Regions from separate parts of the Homo sapiens genome. Here region 1 is linked to region 2. Evidence: fine-mapped expression QTL. A gene starts in region 2. The other region holds a variant in brackets. All regions are shown on one strand. Distances are between the middles of the regions. Region 1 holds the start of LOC101928682 (a long non-coding RNA gene). Region 2 holds the start of C16orf95 (chromosome 16 open reading frame 95).

The links.
Region 1: its variant is fine-mapped to the expression of C16orf95 in gastroesophageal junction (GTEx, PIP 0.96).

The regions. Positions count from the first base shown.
Region 1 is chr16:87,289,763-87,292,671 of GRCh38, forward strand. LOC101928682 (a long non-coding RNA gene) reads right to left here and starts at 2,690. Exons shown (of 5, transcript NR_104667.1): 1 at 2,606-2,690; 2 at 1,922-1,975; 3 at 957-1,035. The variant C/T (reference allele first, on the strand shown) is at 1,214.
Region 2 is chr16:87,316,104-87,318,931 of GRCh38, forward strand. C16orf95 (chromosome 16 open reading frame 95) reads right to left here and starts at 1,289. Exons shown (of 7, transcript NM_001195124.3): 1 at 988-1,289. The coding sequence starts at 1,139. C16orf95-DT (C16orf95 divergent transcript) reads left to right here and starts at 1,406. Exons shown (of 2, transcript NR_135180.1): 1 at 1,406-1,619; 2 at 1,754-1,940. RefSeq lists an enhancer at 867-1,316.

The sequences.
Region 1 (2,909 bases), 26 kb before region 2:
CAGTAACCCCCGTGGAGCCTGCACACGTCCTCAGAAAGTCCCTGATGGAACCGGGTCCCAACTGCCTGCCAGGACGAGCGACAGTCCTGGCTTCAGTTGATTCTCCTCGTGCCACTTCCCCAAAGGGAGCATTTTACTGGATGAAACCAACTTGAGGAACTTATGAAATTTAGTAATTTACCAAAAATGTGCTTATTTTAGCTCGTTATAATGTATACAGTAATTTATATTGGATGGGATGGTTTTGATAGATTTTGAAGATTTCTGCAAAGCTCTAAGTAACTGGGTTTTTTGGGGGGTGGGGCTTATTTTTGAGACAGGGTCTCACTTTGTCACCCAAGCCTGAGTGCAGTGGCGCAATCACGGCTCACTGCAGCCTTGACCTCCTGGGTTCAAGAGATCTTCCTCGGCCTCCTGAGTAGCTGGGACTACAGGCGTGTGCCATCATGCCTGGCTAATTTTTTAATTTTTATAGAACGGGGTCTCACTATGTTGCCCAGGTTGGTCTCAAACTTCCAGGCTCAAGTTATCTGCCCTCCTTGGCCTCCCAAAGTGCTGGGATTGCAGGCATGAGCCACTGCACCTGGCCCCTAAGTGACTGATTCTCATTTTGTCTTCACAATAGCATTTCCTCAGCAAAAGGCGAAAGACATACAGGAGACTTGGCACACACAGTGGCCTGGGCTGCTGACGCTTGGAGGGGCAGTGGGAGACAAAGTGAGGTGGTATGAGGAGGAGGGTGTGCTGCGCCCACCCCCCCTCCCCCCGCAATCCTCTTGCCCTAACAACCCTGCCAGGTTGAACACCCCGCTCTGGGCGCTGCCGGCTTTAGGCATCACCTCCAATTCCTGATGGCTCTGGGGCTTCTATAGCCTTCTCTATAAAGAGGGACTGCACCATCTGCCCTCAGGGGTAATAACGAGGGCAAAGTAAGACACCATATGTTTAGCTCTTACTGCAGCAGGAGTTTGGTCCGCATGGGATGCTTTTATTGTTACTGTTGCCACAGATCTTGTCTGAGGAGCTCCTGCAATCCTGAGGAAACAGGTGGAAGGTGTAAGATTCCCCTCGGCTGGAGACCTGCTCATTTTTCAAGATCTTTCCTGAGCACCATCTCTGCCCCAGCACTGGGCTGAGCACTGGGCACATGCGGAGCCCCAACACTGCCCCCAAAGGCTTCCGGCCTGGACCCTGAAGGAAGACAGGCTGGGAG[C/T]ACGGGACAGCACCAGGGAGCAGCCTCTCCAGGAAGAGGAGCCCAAACGGGCAGAAATGGGGCGGGAAGGGCTCTCTTGGCAGAGAGGGTCAGATGACTGAGAACTTTACACACCAAGAGGGAAAATCTATTCTTGCATTCAGTGAAAGCACTCCTTTTGTGAACTGGAAAGTTGTTTTTTTCTTTTTTTTTGAGATGGGGTCTCACACTGTCCCCCAGGCTGCAATGCAGTGACATGATCTTGGCTCACTACAACCTCCGCCTCCCAGGTTCAAGCAATTCTACTGCCTCAGCCTCCCAAGTAGCTGGGATTACAGGCACCCGCCACCACGGCCAGCTAATTTTTGTATTTTTAGTAGAAACGAGGTTTCGTCATGTTGGCCAGGCTGGTCTCGAACTCCTGACCTCAAATGATCCACCTTCCTTGGCCTCCCAAAGTGTTGGGATTACAGACATGAGCTACCACACTCAGCCAACTTTTTCTTTAAAACCCCAAATTTTAATTAGCACCCCTGACACAGATCATTACCCCTTTAAGTAGCTAGTTTCTGAACTCCTGCCTCCTGCAGAGATTCTCTCAGGCATGCAGGTGCCCTGCCCTCCCCATGGTCTACCTCCATGAAGTTGCACTCAGTCCTACTCTGGCCCCAAACCCCTTTGAACAAAACCCATGGAATGGTGTGGCTGTCTGAGCCTCGGTCTCCTCACCTGTCAAATGTAAGAGTGAATCAATGTCATGCATGTAGGATGTCTGTGGAACACCTGGCAGGGAGAAAACAGTGAATAGTAACTATCGTTACTGCTGGTGCTCAAAAAATATCAGTCATTTGCTTGAGTCCAGGAGTTTGAGGCTGCCGTGAGCTATGACTGAATCACTGCAGTTAAGCCTAAGCGACAGAGGGAAATCCCATCTCTTCAAAAGAAAAAAAAAAGCCCTATTTTCTTCACGTTTTCCATCACAGAAAAGCAAAACATTCAGATCTAGTAATTAATACTTCAGCAAAGAAGGCTCATGAGCCCATTTCTTTTAAGCATCTTCTTAACATTTCTGAGCCTGTCAGTAATCACTTTCCCATGTACTGGGTGGTACTGAGTAATTATCTCCAGCTCTCCCCAGGTCCAAGGTATTCTGCTGCAGAAACGTGACGTGTATGAGTTAGCTAGTGCTGTGTAACAAATTATACTGAGACTCAGCAGTTTCAAACAACCACCGTTGAACATCTCTCACAGTTTTTGAGAGTTGGGAATCCAGGAGCAGCTCATCTGGGTGGTTCTGGCTCAGTCTTGCTAGTTAAGTGGATGTCCAGGGCTGCAATCCAGGATTGCATGACGGGGCCTAAAGGATCCGCTGCCGAGCTCACTCATGTGGCTGCTGAGATTTCAGCTCCTTACCATGTGGCATGGTCACAAGGCTGATGGTGATGTAGCAGCTGGTTTCCCCAGAGCAAAGGGTCCAAGAGAAAGGAGAGAGGAGAGAGAGAGGGAAAGAAACCAAGAGGGAAGCAACAGGACCTTTTATGACCTAATCTTGGAAGTACTGTGGCATCACTTCTGCAGATTCTATTGGTCACACAGACCTATGTGATATAATGTAGGAGGGGCTACACAAGCACGTGAATTCCAGGGTGTGGGACTGCTGGGGGCTATCCTGGAGGCTGGCTACCACGACATGTCTGAGATCAGTTCCCAAGGACAC
Region 2 (2,828 bases):
TGTGCTTGGAGCATCAGAAAAGACAGGAGCATTCCAACCTGCTGAGAACTTTCCAAGACATGTAGCTGCCAATCACATCACCTAGGATGATCTGTCAGACACCCTCAACTTACTGAAATACTGAAGAAAAAACATCGTCAAACTGTCCATTAATGAACCTCCTTCCACTATAAAAACCCGGGTGCTTTGTCTCTGGGATGACAAAGCACTTGGGGTTACACAGCCTGTGTGGCTCTTCCCTGTTCCACTCCCCAACAAACTGCTTGAATGTTGGCTGGATGAAGCGTCTCCAGTGGGTGCAAAGCCCTGCTTCCCTGACAGTAGTGGGTCAAAGTGCTTTGTATGTGGAAACCGTAAGAGCGATATAAGTGTTTTTGGGTTTCATTGTCATAATAACCATTATTATTATTGCTATTTTTGTGAGAGTAATAGGTTCACGCATCAACTCTCCCAGATAATGCTTGAAAACAGAGGATGGGGCACTGCCCTCCACAGCATCCGAGGCCCCTTCTGGTAATGACAGCACTGCTATATTCCTGGTGGGGAGGGGGGGGGCCACAGCCATCTCAGTCCTTGTAGTTCAGGTGGGCCAAACTCACCACTGCCCAGCCTGGAAAGCTGGGAAAAAAAAGAATCTCCTTTTTGTTGAGGTTGATAATCTGATAACATGTAAACCTCAGGAGGTCCTGGTGATCATCTTGCCTCCACAAGGGAAGCCAGCAAAAAGGAAGGAAGCTGAGAGATGGAGAGAAACCTTCCAGGACCATGGTCAATGTGTACCTGGATACATCCATGCCTGAAGGCCTACTTCTGACATTTTCAGTTATGTGGAACCATCAGTTGCGTTTTTGTTAAGCCAATGTAAGTGAGGTTCCTGTGGGTGGCGGTCAAGAGTTCTGCCTGTGCATAGGTCATGGAGCAATGCCGGGCCGGGAACTCACAGGCGAGGTGTCGGGTAGCCGCGGGCAGGATTCAGGACTCACTTGCCTGCCATCCTGCGCGCTGGGTGTGAGTGCCAACCTGCAGAGCCCGACGCACCCCGCGCCCGGCCCCCCGGCAGCAGCGCCTGAGGCTGCTCCAGTGGCCTCATGATGATGGTGACAACGCCGCGGGGACGGTGGGGACCGGCTCGCACGCATATGGCTTCTTATGGCTGACGCGCCCTTTCACACACACATCGTCCGCAGGCCCTGACGCCCTGGCTCCCGCCTTTCCCTCCTGCCCCAGGAGGAACCCAACCCGAGCTCAACCCCAGCCCCAACCTCAACCGCTCAGAGGAGCCCAACAACGCCCGCGCGCCCGCCCGTCCCGCTGACTAGCCCGCGCCCAGCCAATCAAAATTGGCCTTCTAGGTATGTGACCTTAGCTGGCAGCTGATTGGTCCCTCACGAGAGACGCGGGGTCAGCGGCTCAGAGCGCGGCTGTGTGGGGCTGCGGGGCTCCCGCCATGCCCGCTGGGGTAGGTCCTGCGGACCCCGGCCACTGGAGCCACTCATCATTTCCGACGGATGGGCCGGAGGGGCCGCCGGCCGCCCCAGCCAGGGTCTCGGTAGCCTGCAAGGAGAGAAAGAGGTGGGAGCAGCCCGCGCGGGGCCCTGCGTCTTGCATAGGCGCTTCTGGTAAAATCACTCCTTTATCTCAGATAATGAGTTGGCGCTGGATCGCTGCGTCCTCAGGTGGGGCTCGAATCGTGACTTTTAGAGAAATAGGTTTTCTTTCTTTTTTTTTTTTTTTAACAACATGGGGTTTAAAGGGCGCGGAATTGGAAGCAGTCGTCACCCGGAGGCCTGGGCGTGCAAGCACCGAAGCTCTGGCTGGCCCTGAGCCTCCCCACCCCACCCGCTCTTTTCGCTGGAACGCGTGTACTTTGGGCAGTTGCTGACGTGGAGACAGGACGTATGTCTTCATATTTTAGTAAAACCCAATGCCCTCTGCCTCTCTGATTATGTTCTTTAAGTTATCGCCAGTTCCAATTTGTATTTCTTGGAAACGGTTGGGTCTTCCCTCACTTTTCAGTATTTTCATGTAGACTCAAATACTCTGGATTAATATTTGTATTTGCCCAAACCATCACGAGCACCTCTTACCCTGATGGGCAATACTTCAGTGTGCTGCGTTCTGGCCACAGAGCAAACAGGGTGCTCCCAGGCACTGCCCTCTCGGATTTCTTGCCTTGTTATTTAATCATTAAGATCGTGACCTATGAGCAGGACTGTTTCCAGCCAGCACATACACATGTCCTCTCCTGGCCAGCATCCATGCTGATTAGACGGTGCCCCTGCCATACTAGCTGCCTAATATTTCAGATACCCCACCCCGTGTGTGTGTGTAAATCATGTCACTGCCCTCTTTGTAGCTAATGACAAAATTCCAAGAGTCACCATTAGCCTAGCACATTATGCCTGTCTCATTTCTGCCCACTTTGGAGCACTCGGCTTCTCTGCTGTTTTCCTCCAGAGCACACTGAAACACTGCCATAGCACAGCAGGGCATAGAAGACAGGCTCATGCTCCCCTGGACGCTCAGGCCTTCACCTCGGGCACACTAGGTCTTGTCATTCCATGTCAAGAATAGCTCTTCACTGCCCTCACCCACCCAAGAATGGCTAAAATTAAAAGGACTGACAATACCTAGTTTGTCGAGGATGTCACAGCTGGAACCCTCATACATGGCTCATGAAATTGATAAAACCACATTGGCAAACTGGTAGTATTTACAAAACCTAAACATATGAATACCTGATGACCAACTAATTCCTCAACTCACCCAAGAGAAATGAGAGCTTATGTGTACCAGAAGACATGAACAAAACTACCCACAGCAGCTTT